7 linked regions of the Homo sapiens genome follow. The protein of the gene in region 3 purifies or fractionates together with the protein of the main gene of each other region. This does not show direct contact. Each region holds a gene or a part of one and is shown on either strand. Other genes may lie near its edges.

Region 1 (3,500 bases), on a different chromosome or scaffold from region 3:
ATTTTATGGTGGCTTCCCTCCGCATTTCCACCTGGGGAGTTCTGCTTGACGCCCAGCACATGTGCAGTGGACAGGGCTCCTGTCCTGTCCTCGAGAGGAGGGTACAGATGAACCCAGAAAACTTGCCAGGGTTTCCTGGCGGGCGCGGGGGCAGTAGAAAGACTTTGAAATGTTGAAGTTTGTTCAGAAACCTGCTTAGGGGCGGGGAGTGGTGCCCTCTGGTCCTGCCTGCTGGCGGGGGGTGGGGGGTTTTCGCCAGCTCCGCCCCTTCGTCTCGTGGCTGTACTCACAGTGTGTGTGTGCATGTGTGTGTGTGCATATGTGTATTTGTGTGCACGCACGTCTGTGCGCATATGTGTATGTGTGTGCATGTGTGTGCATATGTGTGCATGTGTATGTGCACGCATGTGTGCATATGTGTATGTGTGCACACGTGTGTGCATGTGTGTACGCGTGTGCGCGCACATGTATGTGTGCAGGCGTGTGTGCGCATGACTGTGTGCCTGATGCATGATGTTGGCGTCGTGTGCTACTCCAGTCGTGTGTGTCTGTCTTGCTTCCCTCCTGGGTGGTAAGCACCTGTGACCTGGATGTCCTTTCTCGGGGTCCTTCTCAATGGGGCTCCATGTGACTTTTCCTGTCATCACTGTCTGGGGAGGGGCTGTCTGGACAGATGTCAGAAGTGAGCCATGGGGTTGGGGCAGGTCAGCCAGCTCTGGCCTCAGTACTCCAGTGTGATTGTAAATTAAGAGGAAATGTTAGCCAGTTGCTTTAGCAGCAAAAAAAAAATTTTTTTTTTTAAATAAAAAAGCCCTGGTGGTTCATGCCTGTAATTCCAGCACTTTGGGAGGCCGAGGTGGGAGGATTGCTTGAGCCCAGCAGTTCGAGACCAGCCTGGCCAACATGGTGAAACCCTCTCTCTAGTAAAAATACAAAAAATTAGCAGGGTGTGGTGGTGCGTGCCTGTAGTTCCAGCCACTTGGAAGGCTGAGGTGGGAGGATTGCTTAAGCCTGGGAATTGAAGGCTGCAGTGAGCTGTGATTGCACCACTGCACTCCAGCTTGGGTAATGGAGCAAGACCTTGTTTCACAAAGATGAAAAAGAAAGAAAATGTTCTGGACCGGGCACGGTGGCTCACGCCTGTAATCTCAGCACTTTGGGAGGCCGAGGCGGGCAGATCACGTGAGGTAGAGTTTGAGACCAGCCTGACCAACATGGTGAAATCCTGTCTCTACTAAAAATACAAAAATTAGCCGGGCATGGTGGTGCGCACCTGTAATCCCAGCTACTCTGGGGGCTGAGGCAGGAGAATCGCTTGAACCCGGGAGACAGAGATTGCAGTGAGCTGAAATCACGCCATTGCACTCCAGCCTGGGTGACAAGAGTGAAACTTCATCTCAAAAAAGAAAAAAAAAAAGTAAAAAGTAAACTAAAAGGTAGTACAGTCAGATATCTTCTGTTACATATGGAACCTGTAAAGGCCAAAAGTGTGCTGCATGTGTGCCAACCAGAGCACGAGGGAGCAGGCCCCATGGCACCCTGTGATGTGAGTGTGACTTGGGACAACGATCTTTATGGGCAGCAACGTGGCAATGCCTATCAAAAAAAAAATTTTTTTTTTGAGATGGAGTCTCGCTCTGTCACCCAGGCTGGAGTGCAGTGGTGCGATCTTGGCTCACTGCAAGTTCCGCCTCCCAGGTTCACGCCATTCTTCTGCCTCAGCCTCCTGAGTAGCTGGGACTACAGGTGCCTGTCACCATGCCCGGCTAATTTTTTTTTGTATTTTTAGTAGAGATGGGGTTCCACCGTGTTAGCCAGGACAGTCTCAATCTCCTGGCCTTGTGATCTGCTTGCCTCAACCTCCCAAGGTGCTGGGATTACAGGCATGAGCCACCGTGCCTGGCCAAAAATTTAAAATTTAGTTTTAATTTTAATTTTAAAAGATAGAGTCTCTCTCTGTTGCCCAGGCTGGAGAGCAGTGGCATGATCATAGCTCACTGCAGCCTCAAACTTTCTGGGCTCAAGCCATCCTCCTGCCCCAGCCTCCCATGTAGCTGGGACTACAGGCATACACCACCACACTTGGCTAATTTTTTAATTTTTTTTGTAGAGACAGGGGTCTCACTATGTTGCCCAGGCTGGTCTCAAACTCCTGGGCTCAAGTGATCCTCCCACCTCAGCCACGCAAAATGCTGGGATTACAGATATTGCTCACCACTCCCAGCCCCCTTTCAAATTTTTTAATTTATTTAATTTATTTTTTTGAAATGGAGTCTCGCTGTCACCCAGGCTAGAGTGCAGTGGTGCGATCTTGGCTCACTGCAACCTCCAGCTTCCGGGTTCAATCAGTTCTCCTGCCTCAGCCTCCTGTGTGACTGGGATTACAGGCGCCCACCACCACGTCCGGCTAATTTTTGTATTTTTAGTACAAGCATGAGCCACCACACCTGGCCCCCCTTTCAAAATTTTAAATGGACTTATGCTCTGACCCAGTAATTATCCTTTAGGATTTATTCTACAGGCATATTTACACGTATGCAAAATGGCACAGACACAAGGGTATTTGCTGTGCCACTCTTGGTACTATGACAAGGAAAATCCAGAGGAGCACTGGGTGAAGTCCTGGTGCATCATCTGATGAACTATTGTCAGCTGCTACAAAACAACGTAAAGAAAGTGGGAGCAGGGCCAGGTGCAGTGGCCCACGCCCGCCCGTAATCCCAGCACTTTGAGAGGCTGAAGCGGGCAGATCACCTGAGGTCAGGAGTTTGAGACCAGCCTGACCAACATGGCGAAACCCCGTCTCTACTAAAAATACAAAAAAATTAGCCGGGCGTGGTGGTGCATGCTTGTAATCCCAGCTACTTGGGAGGCTGAGGCAGGAGAATTGCTTGAACCCGGGAGGCAGAGGTTGCAGTGAGCCGAGATGGCGCCACTGCACTCCAGCCTGGGCAATGAGAGCGAAACTCTATCTCAGAAAAAAGAAAAAGAAAAAAAAATGTTCTAGAAGCCTTCATTCTTGGAAGGCTACAGAGTGGGTCCTGAAGCATCCCCATGCTTCCCACTGCTCTTGGGATAGGATCTGAGGTCTCAGCATGTCCATGAGACTCCGGTTCCTCCTGGGATGTGGTTCCCCCCTCAGGCTCCTGTGACTGCCACCCCTCCCACGTGCCGCTCCTGCAGCCCTCTCCACTTTGAGATGCTTGTGGGTAGCTGAGCTCTCCCTTGGTTCTGGCATTTTCCAGTGAACTGTGCTTTTGCTGTTACTGTGCAGGTGAATGACTGGCAGGAGGACTGGGTCGTGTTCTATGCCCGGCAGCGCATTCAGCCCCAGATGGACATGGTGGAGAAGGAGTCTGGGGACAGGGAGGCCCTCCAGCTTTGGTCTGCTCTGCAGGTGAGTGGGGCCCCACTGCATGCCCAGCACCTGCCACACACCCCACTTGCCTGAGGTAGGGGAGGCACCAAGGCAGGTGAGGCCACCTCTGAGTCTGATTCTG
Region 2 (3,500 bases), on a different chromosome or scaffold from region 3:
GACTTGTCCAGGGTCATGTAAAGAGTCAGTGGTAGAATGGGATCTGGAACAGGTCCATGTCCGTCACTGTCCATGTAAAGATTGCTGTCCATATACCTTTTTACTGATCCATGCTGTAGCTAGCATATGGAGGTTTACCTTCTGTATAATTGGTGACCGATTTGACTATGTAGCACATGACAAAGAATGTAAGCTGTTATTACTCAGTTACATGGAAAGGTACAAAGGATAGCTTAGTATCTTTCTTTAGGATATTCTTGTTTGATTCATCCAGTTGCCTCTCCTGCCATTTTAAAATGGTAACAGCCATTGGTATTTGTACCTCTCACTACCCTGGTTAGTCTCTTCATTCCAACCAGAGATGGGTCTGATGTGGCCACCATCCTTATCTCTGTGTTCAGTCCCCAGTCCTGACTTCAGTTTTCATGCTGATGAGTACCTAGAAGTCTACGTTTCTGCTTCTGAGCACCCTAACCACTTCTGGATCCAGATCGTTGGCTCCCGCAGCCTGCAATTGGATAAGCTTGTCAATGAGATGACCCAGCACTATGAGAATAGTGTGGTGAGTTGCCATAGGGACAGGGCTGGGGTTTAATGAAAAGAAGGCATATCTTTTTCATTGTACTCTTCCTTTCCCTGTGGAGCAACTACTTTTCTTTCTTCCTCCTGCAATTCTGTTTATGAGCCTACCACTTTGTAACTCTCTGCCTTTCTCCTCCTCCCCACATACAGCCTGAAGACTTGACTGTGCATGTAGGAGACATTGTAGCAGCACCTTTACCTACAAATGGTTCCTGGTATCGAGCCCGGGTCCTCGGCACCTTGGAGAATGGGAACTTGGACCTCTATTTTGTTGACTTTGGAGATAATGGAGATTGCCCACTGAAGGACCTCAGGGCTCTCAGGTCAGTGCTGAGGTCAGCTCAATCCCAACTGCTGACTCAGTTCTGGCCATAGGGTGGTGAGCTGTTGGCAGTTGTCAGGGGGATTTGGAAGGGAACCTGTTTACAGAGAGCAGATGGTTATCGTCTCATGTTAGTTGGTTCTTTCTGAAAGCAGCAATGTAAGAAGATGTTTTTGGCCCCAGGATTCTAATTTTAGTTTCTTTTACTTCAGGAGTGACTTCCTAAGCCTTCCATTTCAAGCAATAGAATGTAGTCTGGCACGGATTGCTCCCTCAGGTAAATTGGTCATGCCATCTATTGAGCTTACCTCCAAATAGAATAACTTCATACAGTTCATTGGAAGGAATTCTCACATTCCCAGGCTTTTTGAATTCTGGGGACTCAGGTGCCTTTTCCTCACCAGCACTAGCAGCAGCCAGAAACTTGCCTGGCAGACCCAACCCAACCAGAGAAGACACAGGTGCCTTCCTGAGTAGAAAAGGGTAGTTCCAACTTCCCTCCAGGGTATAAGCCCCACCCCTATCAGCAGTAACCCCTACAATCTTTTGCCAGGTGACCAGTGGGAAGAGGAAGCTTTGGATGAGTTTGATAGACTCACTCATTGTGCTGACTGGAAGCCTCTGGTAGCCAAGATCTCTAGCTATGTCCAGACTGGGATCTCAACTTGGCCAAAGATCTACTTATATGATACTAGCAATGGGAAGGTAAGACTGGCATTCACTCACTGCTTGCCATATCTTCAGTATATTTATAGCCTAATTTACTTTTTCTTCCTCAGAAACCCTTATCTGATATTACTCTTACTGTAAGATCCTTCTCACCATCTCACCAAAGGAATGTCTTTAAAGTATCAGTCCTTCTGCCTTGTTTCCTCAAATTTGCCCTTGCTTACTGAGAGAACATCATTCCCTTTTCATTTTTCTTCTCAGAAACTTGATATTGGGCTAGAATTAGTACACAAAGGATACGCAATTGAGCTTCCTGAAGACATAGAAGAAAACAGAGCTGTCCCAGACATGTTGAAGGACATGGTGAGCTATTGTAGTTATATAGGGTGCTGCTTCCAGGCAAATCTAGCACATAGACACTAAGGGCTTCTAGTCCTGATACTGTGTTAGCTTTCCTAAGGACTTTGAGCTCCTCCAGTAGTTGACCAAAGGAGCATTTTGTCCCTCTTGGTAGCCAAATGCAACTGCCTTAACCAGGTCCTATGAGAAGAATGAAAGGGTGGCCTCTTTTTTCCTAAAAGCCAACATGTTCCTCCTTTTTTCCTGTTTTCATCCACTCAGGCCACAGAAACAGATGCCTCTCTCAGCACGTTGCTCACTGAGACCAAAAAGAGCTCTGGAGAGATAACACATACCCTGTCCTGCCTCAGCTTATCAGGTACAAGCAGTATTTCCTCCCTAGAGCATCTTTGGAGATTAACTTTTCTCATTCAGTCTTTCCAGAGTAGGGAGGTTAATTGAAGGCTTGGTTCCTAGTCAGGTCATTGAGTACCAAGAGGTCCATTTTTCTTTTGAGCCTCGCTGGCATTGCCTGCTAGAATAGGGCAGTGTCTAACTTTCTCCTTCTTATTTATCTTCAATAGAAGCTGCTTCCATGTCTGGTGATGATAACCTTGAAGATGACTACTTACTCTGAAGTCTGGGCTTCAGTTTGCTCAGCCATCTGCTTTGCTGTGTGAGTGCAGCTATCATCTATCTGTAGCAACAGGAAAGTAATGAGGGCGACAGTGGGGCACTTGCTTTGATTCCCTCTTTCCCATGCCCTGTCTTAATATACTTCTCTGCAGCTGCTTTCCTGCAGCTTAACTTGCTCTCAGATTGAGCACTTTCAAGCTTTTTGTGTATTTCTGTCTTTGGCAGGATTTGGCATAGGAATTGGTGCATGGAGGAGAGGAGTGTATGATAAAGGATCCATGCAGTCCTTCCTTTATTACACATATAGTCTGGCTTGCTGTGGACCAAATTAATATTCTCCTCCCATCAGACTACAAAAAAATTGGACTACCACGCTACAAGTGTGTCTCCCCCATTCCACCTCCGGATCCCTCCCCAACCCTCCAGTGTTTGAATACTGCTGTGTTACTTCCAGGCCGTTCAACGTCAGGCTCAGTCCCCTCTACCAGTCATGATTCACATTACTACTAGGCTGTATCCTTTTTGAGGCTGGGAAACAGTCAGGCTTTCGTCATTGGAAGTGATTCTGCAGACTTCTGACTCACCTTATCAGGTGACTCTGGTTAAGGAAAGCTTTTGAGTGGTGAACTCAAAGACTCCAGTTGAATCAGGAGGCAAAGGCAAAAATTAGCATAATTATATTTAAAAGCCTCAGGAAGTGGGAAGAGAATACTGCCTCCCAGCCTCAATTGCTGATATGTTATTGGAGACAGGCTTTTGAAACTGCTCCAGCTATTTCTCTGTAACCTTTAGTTAAAATATAAGTAGAAAGGAGACAGGAGGCTCAGGAAATTTTCTAAATTGCTAGTATAATATCTATATGTATACACACATATACACCCGTGGAGAGAGAGGAAGAGTATACAGTCCTGTTTGAATCATTTGGAGGATTTTTTTGCTGAATAAAGTTCTC
Region 3 (4,277 bases):
CTTCCCTCAGGTGTTGATCCCCAGGGGATCATGCTAAACTTTGTCTCAGAGTCTGTTTCCCAAGGAGCCCAACTTGCAGCAGCCGGGAAAGAAACAAGAGCCAGAATGTCCTGTTAAAGAAGTCATATTACTTCTCACCTTTCCCAGAGACCCTCAAGTATTTCAGAGAAGTGTCAGGCCCACATGAAGCTGAGTTTAGGCATTTGGATTTCAGGTCCATAGTGCTCAAGAGAAAGGGTTTTATCAAGGGCAGAGTTAAGCACAGTGGCCCTGGATTTGGAATAGGAATATCCAGCTGCCTAAGCTTTGCTGATGGTCTCCCTTATTCTCTGGTCATCCTTCTGAGCAGAGAGGCTGGGTTAGGAAGTCCTGATCTTGAATCCTAGCTTTAAGCAGCTGCAGATGAGGCCACTGACTGAAATCTTCAGGCTCACATCTGATACACCATTGCACCACAATTTTAGTGACTGAAAGTAAAAACATGACCTAGGCCAAAGCAATTGAATTTGAGTGCTTTTATTTCAGGTTCATATTTTCCCATATATGTTTTCAGTTAGAATGAACAGTCAAAACATGTCAAGGAGAAAAATCAAGCCATTCATCAGAAAATCAATATTTTCATTGGTTTGTCAATGTGATTATGTATTATAGGTATACTAACAAAAATGAAAAAAATCAGTATCTGTATATTCCAAATTTTACAAGTTTTTCAACTTCACATTTTAATTATTCTTTTAAATCCATACAATCACTATAGAAAGTAACTAAATATATGATTCAGGATATATTTCTTAATAATGGTTTGAAAATTTGTAGCACTTAGTTTTCAAGTAGTCATCTATAAAGATTTCATCTGTACTAACCATTTAATTAGAAAAAAATATGCAAAGTAATGCCGTGATGGAAATTTCAAAATATTTGATAGGGAGTACAATTAAAGTTTATATATTGAGAATAGAATATATTTCATTTTATTGGAGTATATGGTGTCTTCTAATCTAGTTAATATACTTTTCAGGCAGCAGCAAATTTAAGCCATATGTTATCAATGATTGCTCAGATCACTTTAAGTATATAATCTGTTACATTAAATAACCTTATTTAGGTAACTGCTTTGAATATTTTGTAGACTCAACTACTTCTTAAAGTTTTGAGTTACTGATTTTTAAATCTGCTTTGGAGGTATAAGCCTCTGAGGGGGCCAAGCATAATTATGTTCCCCAGCCTATTGGTCTTTTCCTTTGATAACCACCTGTGGTTACTATGCCAGCCTGTCAATAAGCATTTATTGAGATCCTGCTGTGGGGCTGAGACCTATACCAGGGCTGAGAAGCAAACACTCAAAACAAAAAATTAAGAAACAAAAGGTTAAGTTTGTCTGGAGAAGTTTACAATCACATTGGTGGTTTTCATGAGCATAAGCCAACATGAGTTTCCTTGATTTTCTTGTTTATCAACAGCAGTGACAAAAATGTTTTTCTAGGGATAACATTGGCTTTGACAACCCCTTAAGCTGAGAAGAGAAAAAAAAGCTCGCATTAACTGATAAAAATTATGCAATGTATGTAGAATCTGGTAGGATCCTCTCCAGAGGTTTGCATATCCATAGATCAGATTTACAACATAAAGTACTGGAACATGTTTCTTAATTATGCATTACATTAAGTTAAAATGTATTCCAATCTTTCATGTTTTAAGAGTAAAATGTCAAGACATTTTTGTGATTTCCTCTAACTAGTAAGACAGGTGGGAGGTTCTTTGTGAGGATTTCCAACCAAGCCATATACAACAAATCCGATATGGATCCCTTTCTTGCCACGGGAAGGCTCCTAATGACATGAAGGAAAAATTTAAAAATGAAAGTGAAAATTACTATAGGTAGTAACGGCACTAGTATTTCTGAGCTATTTAATAACTGGCAGCCTTAATTTTTTTTTTTTTTTTTTTTTTTTGAGACGGAGTCTCGCTCTGTCGCCCAGGCCGGACTGCGGACTGCAGTGGCACAATCTCGGCTCACTGCAAGCTCCGCTTCCCGGGTTCACGCCATTCTCCTGCCTCAGCCTCCCGAGTAGCTGGGACTACAGGCGCCCGCCACCGCGCCCGGCTAATTTTTTGTATTTTTAGTAGAGACGGGGTTTCACCTTGTTAGCCAGGATGGTCTCGATCTCCTGACCTCATGATCCACCCGCCTCGGCCTCCCAAAGTGCTGGGATTGCAGGCGTGAGCCACCGCGCCCGGCCGGCAGCCTTAATTTTTACGCCACCCCAAGATGAAAGCACCAAAATTATTTTTACTGTAGATAGCAAACTGATGTATTTTTCAGGTAATACTATCTATAAACCAGAAAAACAGGCTTAGGTATTGTAAAGACAAAACAAAAATGTACATTTTCACTTTCCTTTAAATAGGGAATTTGATCAGCTAATACCTACCCCCGTTTTTGGTGTAAATGATTTTTCAAATAATTTAAATATCTTATATTTGGGAAAAACCTCAGAAACCATCTATTGGAACCCTACCACCCAATCCAGCAGACCATTCTACAATGTCTTTGATGGATAGTTGTCCAGTCTACACTACGTGAAGATATATTTATCTTTATACATAGGAGTCAATTCATGAGGTATAAATGTGAAGTCATTAGAGATTTTCTTGTTTAAATACCAACCTTTAAGTAAACAAACATACATTTTCAGTAGACGCAACCCTAACATTTGTAAGGCTAGAGCATAAAGAGTGAAAATGGAAATGGCTCTGCCTTTTTCTCCTACCCTGGCCTCTTCCTACAGTACAGGGAGCCTCATGAACCTGCCATGGGCACAGTGGCTCAGGGACATCCACTCAGGGAAGGGGCCCGTGAGCTGTGGTCGCTGACTTGTGGCTGTTAGGCAGAGAAATCCAGGGTCTCAGATTCCTGGAGCATGGTCTTACTAGATGGGCACACGCCTCTTCATAAGGCATGGTGGACAGCAAGTCCAAGTGAGGCTCTCTGATGCTCATGGGCCTGAGGGGTCAAGGTCTCAGAGTGGCACTTACCTTCCTTCACTGTCTAAGAATCCCACGTGTTCCCCCCCCCAAAAAAAACACAAAAACAAAACAAAATTCCCACCTGAAGAGTCCCAAGCTTTTAAATGGATTAACCCATTAACCCTAAGATTTATTTCTAATGTTCTTCAATGCTTGCAATGATACTTACAGGACAATGAGATTAGCAGCTCTGGAGTGCTCCTGTAAGAGTTCATTCAGTCGAACTTGGCGGTAACTCTGTGGGCAACATTCAGATTTGTTGAGTACAGTTCTACCAGAATTATGAATGAGAATTTATTTTCTTAAATCATGAACAAGCAGAAAATCTCATCTTAAAAAATGTATAAAAATTACAATTACTTTTTCAGGCTTAGAAACTTATGGTGTTTTAAAACCTCATGAGAAATTTTAGAAATATAAAGAATAAGACACAGTACAAAGATTTTCATTGTGCTATAGTGGCTTATTAAATTCTAGGGAGAGGGGAAGCAAACAACATAGATAACACTAAAAAGAAGGTGTTTTCTCCTACCCTGGCCTCTTCCTACACTACAAGGAGCCTCATGAACCTGCCATGGGCACAGTGGCATATGCCCATGCCTATGCACAGTGGAATGGCCAGTTTGAGGCAATAGGTTTTCTGTTAAAAAAGAAACCGATTGAATCTTTATACCAATTTGATACTCTAAGAACATAAATTATATTCTAGTCTGCCTTTCTTTAAGCTCTCTGAATATTCTGTAAGCAGAGGGGGCTTTCAATTAAAAAGCCACCAAAAGACTCACTTGGAAAAATAACCACTTTGCAGTGATGAGAGTAATATTTTTTATTGTATTTCACTGGTTCAGAAACCAAGGCTCAGATGCATGATTTGCTCAATTATATGAAAAAACTTGGTCAGAACCGGGCAGTTTGTTACACACAGACTTTATAATTCTAGTTCAGTCTCTTTTTTTTCACTAAATCTAAAAGGCTTTTAGCGTTTCTTGCTCGAATTTTTTCAAGTTCAGCTCCTAATGTGGTTTATGTAGGGCATGGTGGGCAGTCAGTCCAAGCGAGGCTCTCTGAAGCTCGTGGGCCCCAGGGGTCAGGGTCTCAGGGTGGCCCTTATCTTCCTTCACTGTCCAAAATCCCACATGTTCCAGTAAAACAAAATCCTACCTGAAGAGCTTTTAAATTGATTAACCCATTTATCCTAAGATTTCTCTCTCTCTTTTTTTTTTTTTTAAACAGGGTTTCACTCCTATCAT
Region 4 (3,500 bases), on a different chromosome or scaffold from region 3:
TCTCATTATTTCCCAGTAGTTTTAACAAGGAATTTTTGAATACAGTTTTCAGAAAATAGTTTAAATTGGTGCTACAGGTGAGTATCTTTGTAAAAACACTGGTTTGCTAAGGTTCTGACATAGGCTGCCCATAATGTTATCTTTGTAATTTCAATATAATCAGGTATCAGTAGACTTCTCAAGCATGTGGAATAAATGAATACAACACACTTTTTTTTTTTTTTAAAAGAGATAGGGTTTTGTTCTCTTTCCCAGGCTGGAGTGCAGTAGTGCTGTCGTAGCTCACCTCAACCTTGAACTTCTGGGCACCAGTGATCCTCCTGCTTCAGCCTCCCAAGTAGCTAGGACTGCAGGCACATGCGACCACACCCAGTGAATTTTGCTATTGTTTGTAGAGACTGGGTTTCACTGTGTGGCCCAAGCTGTTATCAAACACCTGGCCTCAAGCAATCCTCCCACTCTGGCCTCCCAACGTGACAACACTCTTAAATAATCTTTGTTTGTTTCTTTTTTTTTTCTTCTTTTGAAACGGAGTCTCACTCTGTCGCCCAGGCTGGAGTGTGGCGGCACGATATCAGCTCACTGCATCCTCCCAGGCTGGAGTGCAGTGGCGTGATCTCGGCTCACTGCAACCTCCGCCTTCCGGGTTTAAGAGGTTCTCCTGCCTCAGCTTCCCGAGTAGCTGGGACTACAGGCGCGCACCACCACACCCAGATAATTTTTTTTTTTTTATTTTTAGTAGAGACGGGTTTTCACTATGTTGGCCAGGCTGGTCTCGAACTCCTGACCTCAGGTAATCCACCTGCCTCGGCCTCCCAAAATGATAGGATTACAAGAGAAAGCCACCGCGCCCGGCCTAAATAATCTTTCTTAGCAAGACTATACTTCAGGGATCGTTCCTATAGTTTGTTAAATAATGTTTCTTGGAGATAGAACTCAAATATTTAAGAAGTGCTCATTTAAGGTACGTAAAGCAGAATTTGGCATGACATTTTGGTGCTTTGTATGTAGTTACCTTGTTTTACTGAGTTTACATAGTTAGATCCCACTGAAAAAAAATTCAAGGCTCAGGACTTAATGCCCGTGAGTATGCCTGGAAAAACACCATGTATACATCATAGCTGTTGCTTTTTTTTTTTTTTTTAGCATAAACTGGTTACCTAGTCATCCCAACCACCCTCACCCCTCTGTTTTGTGTTGATCCTGAGATCATTATTCTTTAGAAACTTTGTAACAATATTGGATAGACGTTTAAGCTTACATTGTAACCATTCACGTTGACCCTAACAGCCTTGTTTCTCTTCATGTGCAGACTGACCAAATATGGAAGTGTGCAAGTCTTGAACACATTAGTTTATACAATGTGGCCTGAAAGTTTCCCTCCTCTTTCCAAATCAACCATAATATTCTGAGGTACTCAGTGAGAATTTTTTGAAGATTGTTTTCTATCAGACTTTTCCCCCTAAATCCCTTTTTCTGATCACTATACAGTGAAATAAAGCCCTAAACCTACTTTTAAGCTCCTGCCTGACATTAAATAGTATGTATGTATTATCTTGGTTGTAAAGTATGAGAAATATATCTTCTTAATTGTGTACCTCTCCAAGAATTAATGCATAGTTGTTATGTATTTCCTGTTAAGGTTGCATCAGCATTTGTGTTATAAACTACTACTCCTTGGGTTCTGTAAGTCTTTGTGGAAATAAATTTTTCTCTGTACCTAAATCTGGCATTTCTGAAGGTACATTAGCAAGTGAGTTTCTGTGGTAACTTTAACATAATGTTACTAAGTCAAACTTTAACAACAATTTGACTGTTTTAAAACTTTCTCCCTTTTTCCCTTATTTATGCATTTTGGTAACTAACCAACAACCTATGGTTTATAATTTTGTTTTCCATTTTCTGAGGATGATCTTTTATCAGTTAAGGAAATGATATGCAGAATCCTTTGGGAATATATTTTATTTTTTAAGACTACTAAAGTGCAGTAGTGAGAACGGGGAAAAGAGTAGAACAAGGAGTTTGTTCTGTAACTGACTGAACAATCGAGATAACTCACTGTCTTTGGACCAGCTTTGGGAGTATATTTTAACTATCATGAAGGATAATACGAGATAGCATACTGGAAGGCACAGAAAACACGTATCTTCTGCCAAACATTCATGGTTTGCCTACATGCATTCCCCTGAAAATCAAACAGGTCATAGAAAAGACAAATTATATTTCTGCATTTATCTTAGACTTTGATCATCTGTTGAATGATTTGCCTGCTGAGTTTTAAATTCATGTAGATTAAAGAGAAGTGAATAATACATTTTAGATCTGAATGTAAACAGATGCATATTCTAAGTGGAATAGATTCATTTTCTTTATTGTAGATGAGAAGGAACTATATTGACTAATTTCCTAAAAAGAGGAAAAGTCTTTGACTAACCCTGCGTTGCTTAAAAATACTCATATTTTTACATTTATTAAATGCTAATGTAAATTATACTGTAGAAATCTGAACAGTTTTTAAAATCTGTACTAGCAAGTCAGGAATATAATCTGACCTTGTGAATGAGTAGTACATTAACATTAAGCTGACTTTCCCTGTGTTCCCAGGGATAGCTTCTATTGTGGACGTGGAATCCAAATAACAATTTAAATATTTAGTTTCACAGATATTGTGTTGAAATGGCATTAAGCCAGCATATGTAGAGTTCTGGAAAAAATTAAAGTGTGTTTCCTGAAATATCCATGGGAACATGAGAAAACCATTGGCAAGATTTTTTTCAGGTGTCAGCATTATCACACTCATAATTAACAGAGTTAAATGAACTCTGTTTTATGCACATTTCATCCCTACTTGTTACCTCTTGTACCTTTCATTAGAAGTATGAAGTATCAAGATATAGTGGGGAGAGTATGAACTTTGGGGTGAGAAAGACATGGATATCCCAAGTCTCTGAGAAGGAGTGATTAAGTAGCTTATCCTCAGAAACTCCATTTTTAAACATGGAGCTACTTACATCTACCTCATGGAACTGTAATGGAAAACACCTGATATCCCCCCTAAAGACCCTATAAAGTTATAATTATTTTGAAACTTACTTTTATTGAAGGATAAATGTGGCATACATACATTGAAATATTATTCAGCCTTAGGGAAATTGTGACACATGCTACAATATGAATAAACCTTGAAGACTTATACTAAATGAAATAAACCAGTTATGAAATGATAAATATTGTGTAATTCCACTGCTTATATGATACACCTAGAGTAGTCAATTTCTTAGAGATGGAAAGTAGAATAGTGGTTTTTGGAGGAGGAAGAGAATAGGGAATTAGTGTTAATGGGCACAGAGTTAAGAAAGGAAATGTTCCAAGGATAGATGATGGTGATGGTTGCATGACAATGTAAATGTATTTAATGACACAAAATTGTACACTTCCGTGGCTAAGATGGTAATGTTTGTGTTATTACTTAATCACAATGCAAAAAGATTACAACTTAT
Region 5 (3,500 bases), on a different chromosome or scaffold from region 3:
TTTTTTTTTTTTTGAGACGGAGTCTTGCTCTTGTCGCCCAGGCTGGAATGCAATGGCATGATCTTGGTTCACTGCAACCTCTGCCTCCTGGGTTCAAGTGAATCTCCTGCCTCAGTCTCCTGAGGAGCTGGGATTACAGGTGCCCGCCACCATGCCCAGCTAATTTTTGTATTTTTAGTAGAGACAGGGTTTCACCTTGTTGGCCAGGCTGGTCTCAAACTCCTGACCTCGTGATCTGCCCACGTTGGCCTCCCAAAGTGCTGGGATTACAGGCATGAGCCACCACACCCAGCCAAAACTCTTATATTTGATAAATGAATTCAGTAAAGTTACAGGATACAAAATCAATGTATGAAAATCAGTAGCATTTCTATGCACCAAAGCATTATCCTTAAGAGCTTGGAACAGCTCTTCAACCCTCAAGCTGACAGCCAAATCAAGAATGCAATCCTATTTACAATAACCACAAGCACAAAAAATAAAACACATAGGAATACATCTAACCAAGGAAGTAAAAGATCTGTACAAGGAGCATTACAAAACACTGCTGAAAGAAATCATGGAAAATACAAATGGAAAAACATTCCATGCTCATGGATTAGAAAAATCAACATTGTTAGATGTCCATACTGTTCAAAACAATCTAAAGATTCAATGCTATTCCTATCAAATTACCAATGTTATTTTTTACAAAATTAGAAAAAACTATTCTCAAATTCATAGAAAACCAAAAATGAGCCCAAATAGCCAAAGCAATCTTAAGCAAAAAGAACAAAGCTGGAGGCATCACATTATCTTACTTCAAACTGTACTACACGGCTACAGTAACCAAAACAGCATGGTATTGATATAAAAATAGACACATCGGCCAATGGAACTGAACAGAAAACCCAGAAATAAAGGAGCATACCTAAAACCAACTGATATTCAACAAAGTCAATGAAAATAAGCAATGGGGAAAGGACTCCCTATTCAATAGATGGTGCTAGGAAAACTGGCTAATCATATGCAGAAGACTGAAACTGGACCACTACCTACCACCATACACAAAAATTAACTTAAGATGGATTAAAGACTTAAATGCAAGACCTAAAACTATAAAAATCCCAGGAGAAAACCTAACCTAGGAAACACTCTTCTGGACACTGGCCTTGGCAAAGGCTTTATGACCAAGTCCTCAAAAGCAATTGCAACACAAATAAAAATCAACAATTAAGACCTAATTAAACTAAAGAGCTTTTGCACAGCAAAAGAAACTAACAGAGTAAACAGACAACCTATGGACTGGGAGAAAACACAAACTATGCATCCAACAGGACTAATATCCAGAATCCACAAGAAACTTAAATCAACAAGAAAAAATAAATAACTTCATTAAAAAGTGGGCAAAGAGCATGAACAGACACTTCACAAAAGAAGACATACAAGCGGCCAACAAACATTAAAAAGTCAAATAATTACAGAAGTTGTTGAGGCTGTGGAGAAAAGGGAATGCTTATACACTGTTGGTGGAAATGCAAATTAGTTCAGCCATTGTGGAAAGCAGTTTGGAGATTTCTCAAAAAACTGCAAATAGAACTATTATTCAACCCAGCAATTCCACTATTAGGTACATACTGAAAGGAAAATGCCAAAAATATACATACACTTGCATGTTCACTGCAGGACTATTCATAACAGCAAAGACATGTAATCAACCTAGGTGCCCATTAATGGTGGATTGGATAAAGAAAATGTGGTACATATATACTGTGGAGTACTATGCAGTCATTAAAAAGAACAAAATCATATCCTTTGCAGCAACATGAACGTAGTTGGAGACCATTATCCTAAGCAAATGAACACAGAAATGCAAAACCAAATGCTACATGTTCTCACTTATAAGTGGGAGCTAAGTCTTGGGTACATGCAGGTATAGATGGGAACAACAGACTGAAGAATCCAAAATGTGGGAGGGAAGGAAGGGGACAAGGGCTGAAAAACATACTTTTAAGTACTATGTTCACTATATTCATGATGCAATCACTAGAAGCCCAAACCTCAGCATCAGACAATATAGCCTAGTTATAAACTTGCACGTGTACCACCTGAATCTAAAATAAAAATTTTAAAAACAGGTAGTGATAGTGACAGATAAATAGGAGATTATTTTGAAATACAGTAAGGAAGAAGAAAATATAAAAATTTATAATTGGTTAAACACAGGGAATGGAAATAGGTAAATGTTAAGAAAAATATTCAGATTTCTCACTTATATGTGGGATGTAAGAATCAAAACAATTAAGTCCATGGAGATAGAGTAGAAGGGTGGTTGCCAGAGGCTAGGAAGGGTACTAGGGGGGTTGGGGGGGAGGTGGGAATAGCTAATGGGTACAAAGAAAATAGAATGAATAAGACCTAGTATTTGGTGGCACGACAGGCTGACTTATAGTCAATAATAATTTAAATGTATGTTTTAAAATATAATTGGATTATTTGTAACCCAAAGGATAAATGCTTGAGGGGATGGATACCCCCATTTTACATGATATAATTATTACATATTGCATGCCTGTATCAAAACATCTTATGTATTCCATAAATATATACACCTACTATTTACCCGCAAAAATTAAAAAAAAAATTTTTAAAAGAAAAATACTCAGATCTTTAAATTCACTTAGATTGGGAACACAGGATTAGGAGCAATATTGGTCAAGCAGAGGTGGCTTATGTTTTAAAACATCTTACACTTAGACTGCCTTTAAAACATTCATATGAAGTCTTTCATAAGCAGCTGGATATATGGATCTAGAATTAGGAGAGAGATCTGTGCCAGAGATATAAGATTGAGGGTTGCCATCACATAAATGATGAACAATAAAAGCAGTGAGATTGGCTTAGGCTAAGTGGGTACAGTAAGGAGAGTAAGTGCTGAAGTCAGGATCCTGAGGACTCAGCATTCACAGAAGGAATTACTGAAGGAAAAAACATAAAAACCAAAAAGGAACAGCTAGAGAAGTAGAGGGAAAACCATAAAAGTGAGATATCCTGAAGCCAGGGAAGAGTGGATTTTCGGAAGGAGTCAAAGCATTAAGTGTGGCAGAAAGGGGAAATAAAATGGGGACAGAAAAATGCCACTACATTTAACAAAAGGACGTCTCTGATGCTCTCAGCAGAATAATTTTAACAAGGTGTCATGCACAAAATAGAAATTAAACAAAAGTTTGATGACAGACACTTTTCAAAACATAAAGTTCTATAATTTCGGAAGTATTTTCTCATATTAAGATTTGTCACAGTTCTAAATCAGGAAAAACTTTGAAATCAGCTACCCAGGTACACATCACTGAAATCTTTTACTGCTTCTATTGGTTCCCCTCCTTGCTTTTAACAATGGCAAGCTTTCTAGGATGTCTCGTTGTTTTGTGCAATTAAAACCACCACAAGGAAGGCTTGCTATGGGTCTGTATGTCACAAAGGAAGTCTCCATAAATAAAAGTTGTCACAGAACCAGGGAC
Region 6 (3,500 bases), on a different chromosome or scaffold from region 3:
GCTGCAATCTCATTATAATGATCTCATTATAATATAATTATCTCATTATAATAATCTCACCATGGGGCGGTGAGGAGTTGTTCCTTATGGATGAGCAGAGAAAGTGATTTCCTGAGATGGAACCTACTCCTGGTGAAGATCCTGTAAACAATGTTGATATGACAACAAAGGATTTAGAATATTACATAAACTTGGTTGATAAAACAGCAGCAGGGTTTGAGGCCAGTTTTGACTCCAATTTTGAAAGAAGTTCTACTGTGGGTCAGATGCCATCAAACAGCATTTCACGCTTCAGAGAAAATCTTTCAGGAAAGGAGACATCAATCAGTGTGGCAAACTTCATTGTCATCTCATTTTAAGAAATTGCCACAGCCACCCCAACCTTACACAACCACCACCCTGATCAGTCAGCACCCATCAACATCACGACATGCATGACTTGCTGAAAGGCTGAAATGACTGTTAGCATTTTTTACCAATAAAGTTATTTTTTGTTCCTTGGTTGGTTTGTCACCCCACCTGGAGAGTGCAGCAGCAGGATCATAGCTCATCACAGCCTTGAACTCCTGGGCTCAAGCAATCCTGCTGCCTCAGTCTCCCGACTAGCTGAGACTGCGGGCATGTGCCACCATGTCCAGCTATTTTTATAGAGACAGGGTCTTGCTGTGTTTCCCAGGCTGGTCTCAAACTCCTGGGCTCAAGTGATCCTCCTGTCTCAGCCTCCCAAAAGGCTAGATGACAAGCATGAGCCACTGCGCCCAGCCTATTTTCTAATTAAGGTATGTACATTGTTTTGTTTGTTTTTTTTTTTTAGACATAATGCTATTACATAATACACTGTATATAGTGTAAATATAACTTTTATATGCACTGGAAAACCAGAAAATTTGTGTGACTCCTTTATAGTGATACTTGCTATGTTGTGATTTGGAAACAAACCCACAATATCTGAGGTATGCCTGTTACCAGGGTAGGAGACATTTTTACTACAAGAAAGGTTTTGTGTCAAATACCATTCAAATTTGTTTTACAGCATATTTTTATTTAAGACTTATGAACAGTAATACCTTGTGTAATTATTGCTTTCTATTTTTATATAAAAATAACTACCTCATTACTTGTTTATAGCTGATAAGATAATCCCTTCTTTCATTAAAGTTTGCATTAATTCTGTTAATATTTTTACCTAAATTTGTACTGGTTTGTGGTCTAAACCAATATGGCAATTTTTTCGACCACCTCTATAGAATGGTCATTTGCCAGACTTTGAAAACATTGCCAAAGAACAGCCCATAGTCCTGAATTACACACTTTGCCTGTAATGTGTAGATTAACTGTTTTCCCACAGGTCTGTCTTATACTTGAAATGTAGGTGAACACTGAGTCCTGCACCTGTTTCTAATTAGCCTGAATTAGTTGCACGTATTTAGAATACCATGTGTGATTTAATGTCTTACTGTAATTTCTGAAATTTTTATTTTAAAATAATAAATTTTAACATGGAATTATATGGAAATCCTTTAACCAAAAGCAGATTAACCTCGCCTTTTTATCTTGAATGTGAAAGCACATTTTTACAATGTTAAATTTTTTAAGTGAGTAAAATTTGTAATTTGCATCAGGTCATTTTACAGATAAAATATAAAATGTACTATTGGCTAGATATTATATGTTGTTCAAATCTGTAATTTTAGCAAATATGTATTAATGTTTTGAATTGTTAAAAACCTCAACCTTTTCAAACAAAATGATTTTCCAAGGTAATGTCTTGTTTAGGGCTTAGATTAAATTTAATCCCCGCAATCCTTACTGTATTATGTAGGTCTCTTATTTTATTCTTTCAGAGTTTACAGTAGCTGTCAGAATTGACTAAACCTACTTAACCTGTGCTGCATGTAATAGAAGAGCTTAAATCTCAGTCACTCTTACTATTTGTCTTCTTTATTTCTCTCATGCACACAAACTCTTACGTGAGGTTTGGCTGCTATTTCTTGTGCCGTCACTTTTTACAACTTTATGGCCATATTTATCTTGCAGTTTGAGGCTGCTTCTTTTTCAAGTATGGGCGTAGGAGAGTTTTTTTAAAAAGCTATTGTTGGTTTGACATTTGAAATGTTTCTTGTGGAAAAAAAATTTTTAATTTTTTAAAAATGTCATTTATGTAGAAGATATAGAAAAACATCACACAGAAAATGAGAAAGACAATATGAAAATTGCATGACTTTTTAAAATTCTGATCTCCACAAAAAGTTTTTAACTAAAATATGCATGAACCTTTAATAAATAATTCTAAGTTGTTTGCATTTTATGTATTTTTAGATGCTGCTGTTAATTCTGGAGAACTGTGGTTTGTAAATTTTTACTCCCCAGGCTGTTCACACTGCCATGATTTAGCTCCCACAGTATGTATTTTTCACATCCTCATTACTAGTTTTATTTCTAATTGATCTGCAATTTATATGTTAGAATTTTTTTTTCTATGAATAGTAATCAAAAATAATTATCAAATACTTTAAATGTCTGGTTTAAAAATATATAGCTTGGAGTGTGTTCAAGGGAAGAAAAGTGGTCTTATCAGAGAAATATGTTTTCTTTTTCTGTCATAGTGGAGAGACTTTGCTAAAGAAGTGGATGGGTTACTTCGAATTGGAGCTGTTAACTGTGGTGATGATAGAATGCTTTGCCGAATGAAAGGAGTCAACAGCTATCCCAGCCTCTTCATTTTTCGGTCTGGAATGGTAAGGGATAAAGTTAGCATTTTTTAAATTTGTGAAACATTATGACAAGTTAAATAGTAGAGAAAATAACAGTATGTAGAATTTGCAGAACATTTTAAGTCTTGTTTTACAAGGTGCCATCTCACTAGTCTTCTGTAATAATAAACATTTTGGATTATGAATTTTTTTTTTTGAGATGGAGTCTCACTCTGTTGCCCAGGCTGGAGTGCAAGGGTGCAGTCTCGGCTCACTGCAACCTCTGCCTCCTGGGCTCAAGCAGTTCTCCTGCCTCAGCCTCCCGAGTAGCTGGGACTACAGGCACCCGCTCCCATGTCTGGCTAATTTTTGTATTTTTAGTAGAGACGGGGTTTCGCCATGTTGGCCAGGCTGGTCTTGAACTCCTGACCTTAGGTGATCTGCCCACCTCAGCCTCCCACAGTGCTGGGATTACAGGCGTGAGCCACAGTGCCTGGCAAAAAAAACACCATTGACTTTGCTATATTTTAAAATTAAATGTTTGCCAATTTCAGTTTCTGTCTTAAGGAACATAATTTATACAATATGTATATTGTATTTGGTAGTTTACAAAGTATTTTACAAGTGTTGTCTCATTGAATGTAAAGCTCTGATATCTTTTTTCTTAGTTTCCAGTGAGGAACCTGAACGATTATAAATGGTATTATTAAAATGTGTTCCATAGAATCTGTACTGTCAAGATTATCAGGATATCATTTGGAAATACATTCTGCTATTGAGAAATAGAGCTTTGCTGCATTATTCAAG
Region 7 (3,500 bases), on a different chromosome or scaffold from region 3:
TTCTCGTTAAATTCACACTGAAAGTGCTCTTGCAAACTTGGATTTAGTGTTTTTGGTCATGGGGCCCCCATTCAATTGTTTGTTTGCCTTGGGAATATTTGCATTAAATAAAGCCCATATTTTGATGTTTCTATTAAATTTTATACATAATGGAGTCTTGTTCTGAAAAGGTGATGAAGGTGCTTATGTTTTAATTCTTCTGTTTGTCTACTTAGGTTCAATGTTGGATATCATAAAATACATTGTCAACCGAGGAGAACACAAGAATGGAGTTCTGGAAGAGGCAATAATAGCAACAATTCTTAAAGAGGTTTTGGAAGGCTTAGACTATCTACACAGAAACGGTCAGATTCACAGGTATGACCTCTGCAGAGATGTTTAAATTCAGATGTTCATATCTTAAAGAGGTTTTGGAAGGCTTAGACTGTCTACACAGAAACGGTCAGATTCACAGGTGTGACCTCTGCAGAGATGTTTAAATTCAGATGTTCATATCTTCAGCCCTAGTTTGTAAAGAATGTTAAGGAAACACATGTTGCAGGCAGGTATTGACATTACTTTAACTTAGTCTAAATAGATGGGAAAAAAGTACTTAAGAAAGAAACAAGAGAATAAATTTTGATGAATTATATTGGTATCCTTGGGATTGCTTCAGTTGCTTTCACTGAAATAAGAGTGGAATCTAAAAAGGACTACATGGACTCATTTAAAAAGATCAGTTTTGGTAACTACTCTTGAATTATACTAGTTGAACTAGACAGCATCTCTATCTTTCTAATACAAGCAAGACTATCCAAACATTGTACTATGTGAATTATTTTTGATGTGGTGGTGAGAGGGAAGGAAGAGGTACTCATCTTCTTTTGTGACATAAAATGTTAATTCTTTACATAGTCAAATCACATAGAATATGAGTGCTTGATGTTTCAAGTGAGTGAGTGCTACTTGGGCTCTTAGGAATTATTGCAAGTAAATAGCCATTTACCAGTAATACTAATAATGTAATTCTCCTACCCTGAAATTTATATTTAATTATTTCTACTATATTTTTCTTTTTCTTTTTTTTTTTGAGACAGAGTCTTGCTCTGTTGCCCAGGCTGGAGTGCAATGGTGTGATCTCAGCTCACTGCAACCTCTGCCTCCCGAGTTCAAGCAATTCTCCTGTCTCAGCCTCCCGAGTAGCTGGGATTACAGGCATGCGGCACCATGCCTGGCTAATTTTTGTATTTTTAGTAGAGATGGGGTTCACCATGTTGGCCAGGCTGGACTGACACTCTTGATCCCAGATGATCTGCCCACCTTAGCCTCCCAAAGTGCTAGGATTACAGGCGTGAGCCACTGTGGCTGGCCTATATTTTTCAATAATTAGAAAAAAGTTACTTTAGAAATCAAATTTATAAATTGCAAGTTGTCATTTTTCAAAGTACTAAGATTACACAGGTTTTATACGGTGAAGAAATATAATATCTATTATTATAATTAGTATTTATAATCAGTCTCTCACCAGAGAGAAGTTCATTTTTCAGAAAGATAATTAAGTTGGAATTGCATCCCAAATTTAAGTGGAAGTAGAGGAGCTTTACATAGACTGGGCTTTAATACTTGGTAGAATGACAGTAGTGTGAGTTTATGGGCAGTGTCTAACTCTGAAGCATAAAATAGAGAGTCTATTTACTGATGATTTAATTAAATTTGGATAATTATTTCATAGAAAATATTTCTTTCTAAAATCCTAACTCTCCCCCACGAGTAAACTATAAAGTGACAGGTGGATCCTTATACCTTTTTTTTTTTTTTTTTTTTTTTTTTGAGACCAAGTTTCACTCTTGTTGCCCAGGCTGGAGTGCAGTGGCACGGTGTTGGCTCACTGCAGCCTCCACCTCCCAGGTTCAAGTGATTCTTCTGCCTCAGCCTCCCAAGTAGCTGGGATTACAGGCACCTGCCACCATGCCCAACTAATTTTTATATTTTTAGTAGAGATGGGGTTTCACCATTTTTTCCAGGCTGGTCTCGAACTCCTGACCTCAGGTGCTCCACCCACCTTGGCCTCCCAAAGTGCTGGGATTACAGGCGTGAGCCACTGTGCCCAGCCTATCCTTATAACTTTTAAAATCTGTGCTATTATCTTAATATTTATGAAATTATTATGTCAAAGAGCTGCGTTGTATGATATGTTTTAAAATCTTCCTGAGTGAATCAATACACTATAAAGTCTGTACCCTACAATTTATTTTCTATTTTTTTTTCTAATAGGGATTTGAAAGCTGGTAATATTCTTCTGGGTGAGGATGGTTCAGTACAAATAGCAGGTAAAGCTGATAAATAGAAAAATTTTTTACTTGATTACGGAAGTGTTACAGTTTCAAGGAATGTAGAATCATTCCTGAGAAATGAATAAATGCATGTAATCTCTTTTCAGAATGATATTTACAGAATGTTTGGGTCCGAAGGATAACATATTTTCCTTATTGTTTTGATAAGTCATTAGATCATCCTGTGAAAAATGCCATTTTAGTACATAGCTTTTTGATAAAGAATAATTTTATTTTCAATTTTATTATGTTTTCTACCTTTCACATTTTATAATGGTAATACTCATATAACTTCAAGAAATGCACTTGTAAAAACATTTTTCGATAGGTTTGAAAATTTAAAACATCATACACATCAATTAAAAACTAATTTATTTCTTAAGAGGTATCTGAAAGAATTGTGAACATTAAAAATCTGGGCCTTATTTTGTTTTTAACTCTGACCCAACATGGCTATTCTTGACAAAGCTGGTAGGCTGGGGATGCAATGAATGTCTTTTACATGAACACACAATATCAGGTGAGCACCTTTCGTGTTCAAAGCCTCTATTTTGTTATTGGCCCTAGAGTAACCTTAAAGGCCTGGGATAAGATGTAGCCACGCCCATATTAACTCTTGCTTTACCCATGTCGTTGAAAGTCTGTCTCAGCAATCCTTTTAGCTTTCATGGTTTCTTGGGGGAGTGTTCTTGGCATTTTTTGGCTAGACAGTCATTCCCTCTACTGGAGTGACCCTGTCATTGCAGAGACGCGTAAGATGAGCCCACTTGTACCCATCACCTAGTTTCAATAATTATCAATCTTTGGCAATTCTTGATTCATCTGCTGCCCCCCACCCCCACCCCCCGACTCTGGTGCCTCTCCTCATCGTGGAGGCTGGATTTTGTTGTTGAGCCATCTGAGTTAGTGCTTTGTGTGTGCATATCTTGTCCTCATGAGTGGACCTTATCCCATAGGCTAAGGACAGTTTGAAAAAGTACTTCAGTTAAACAAGTAACAGCTAAGAGACATCTGTGGGCAAAGATTTCAAACTGTCCAGCCCCAAGCAGTCTAGTTGTTCAGAGTGCAGGCTCTGGTGTCAGCTGACTTGATCGAAATTCTGAGGCCACCACTTAGTAGCTGTACCACCTTGGGCAAGTTACCAAACCTTCTTAAGACTCAGTTTCCTTAAAGAAGGGTAAAAATATA

The links.
Region 1: the proteins of SLC12A1 (region 3) and FN3KRP purify together in Homo sapiens (affinity purification with mass spectrometry; one large-scale study listed by BioGRID and IntAct). This does not show direct contact.
Region 2: the proteins of SLC12A1 (region 3) and TDRKH purify together in Homo sapiens (affinity purification with mass spectrometry; one large-scale study listed by BioGRID and IntAct). This does not show direct contact.
Region 4: the proteins of SLC12A1 (region 3) and RABGAP1 purify together in Homo sapiens (affinity purification with mass spectrometry; one large-scale study listed by BioGRID and IntAct). This does not show direct contact.
Region 5: the proteins of SLC12A1 (region 3) and ELOVL7 purify together in Homo sapiens (affinity purification with mass spectrometry; one large-scale study listed by BioGRID and IntAct). This does not show direct contact.
Region 6: the proteins of SLC12A1 (region 3) and DNAJC10 purify together in Homo sapiens (affinity purification with mass spectrometry; one large-scale study listed by BioGRID and IntAct). This does not show direct contact.
Region 7: the proteins of SLC12A1 (region 3) and STK39 purify together in Homo sapiens (affinity purification with mass spectrometry; one large-scale study listed by BioGRID and IntAct). This does not show direct contact.

The regions. Positions count from the first base shown.
Region 1 is NC_000017.11:82,723,206-82,726,705, forward strand, and holds part of FN3KRP (ketosamine-3-kinase), read left to right. Parts: intron 1-3,274; coding exon 3,275-3,397; intron 3,398-3,500.
Region 2 is NC_000001.11:151,773,501-151,777,000, reverse strand, and holds part of TDRKH (tudor and KH domain-containing protein), read left to right. Parts: intron 1-401; coding exon 402-562; intron 563-732; coding exon 733-905; intron 906-1,116; coding exon 1,117-1,181; intron 1,182-1,457; coding exon 1,458-1,609; intron 1,610-1,834; coding exon 1,835-1,936; intron 1,937-2,194; coding exon 2,195-2,291; intron 2,292-2,496; coding exon 2,497-2,549; 3' UTR 2,550-3,500. UniProt on the Homo sapiens protein: Participates in the primary piRNA biogenesis pathway and is required during spermatogenesis to repress transposable elements and prevent their mobilization, which is essential for the germline integrity.
Region 3 is NC_000015.10:48,300,302-48,304,578, reverse strand, and holds the end of SLC12A1 (solute carrier family 12 member 1), read right to left. Parts: intron 3,265-4,277; coding exon 3,197-3,264; intron 1,830-3,196; coding exon 1,694-1,829; 3' UTR 501-1,693; downstream 1-500. UniProt on the Homo sapiens protein: Renal sodium, potassium and chloride ion cotransporter that mediates the transepithelial NaCl reabsorption in the thick ascending limb and plays an essential role in the urinary concentration and volume regulation. Electrically silent transporter system.
Region 4 is NC_000009.12:122,944,020-122,947,519, forward strand, and holds part of RABGAP1 (rab GTPase-activating protein 1), read left to right. Parts: intron 1-1,312; exon of another isoform or gene 1,313-1,413; intron 1,414-3,500. UniProt on the Homo sapiens protein: May act as a GTPase-activating protein of RAB6A. May play a role in microtubule nucleation by centrosome. May participate in a RAB6A-mediated pathway involved in the metaphase-anaphase transition.
Region 5 is NC_000005.10:60,774,770-60,778,269, forward strand, and holds part of ELOVL7 (very long chain fatty acid elongase 7), read right to left. Parts: intron 1-3,500. UniProt on the Homo sapiens protein: Catalyzes the first and rate-limiting reaction of the four reactions that constitute the long-chain fatty acids elongation cycle.
Region 6 is NC_000002.12:182,726,257-182,729,756, forward strand, and holds part of DNAJC10 (dnaJ homolog subfamily C member 10 isoform 1 precursor), read left to right. Parts: intron 1-2,319; coding exon 2,320-2,402; intron 2,403-2,606; coding exon 2,607-2,738; intron 2,739-3,500. UniProt on the Homo sapiens protein: Endoplasmic reticulum disulfide reductase involved both in the correct folding of proteins and degradation of misfolded proteins.
Region 7 is NC_000002.12:168,160,596-168,164,095, reverse strand, and holds part of STK39 (STE20/SPS1-related proline-alanine-rich protein kinase), read left to right. Parts: intron 1-215; coding exon 216-357; intron 358-363; exon of another isoform or gene 364-374; coding exon of another isoform or gene 375-454; intron 455-2,253; coding exon 2,254-2,309; intron 2,310-3,500. UniProt on the Homo sapiens protein: Effector serine/threonine-protein kinase component of the WNK-SPAK/OSR1 kinase cascade, which is involved in various processes, such as ion transport, response to hypertonic stress and blood pressure.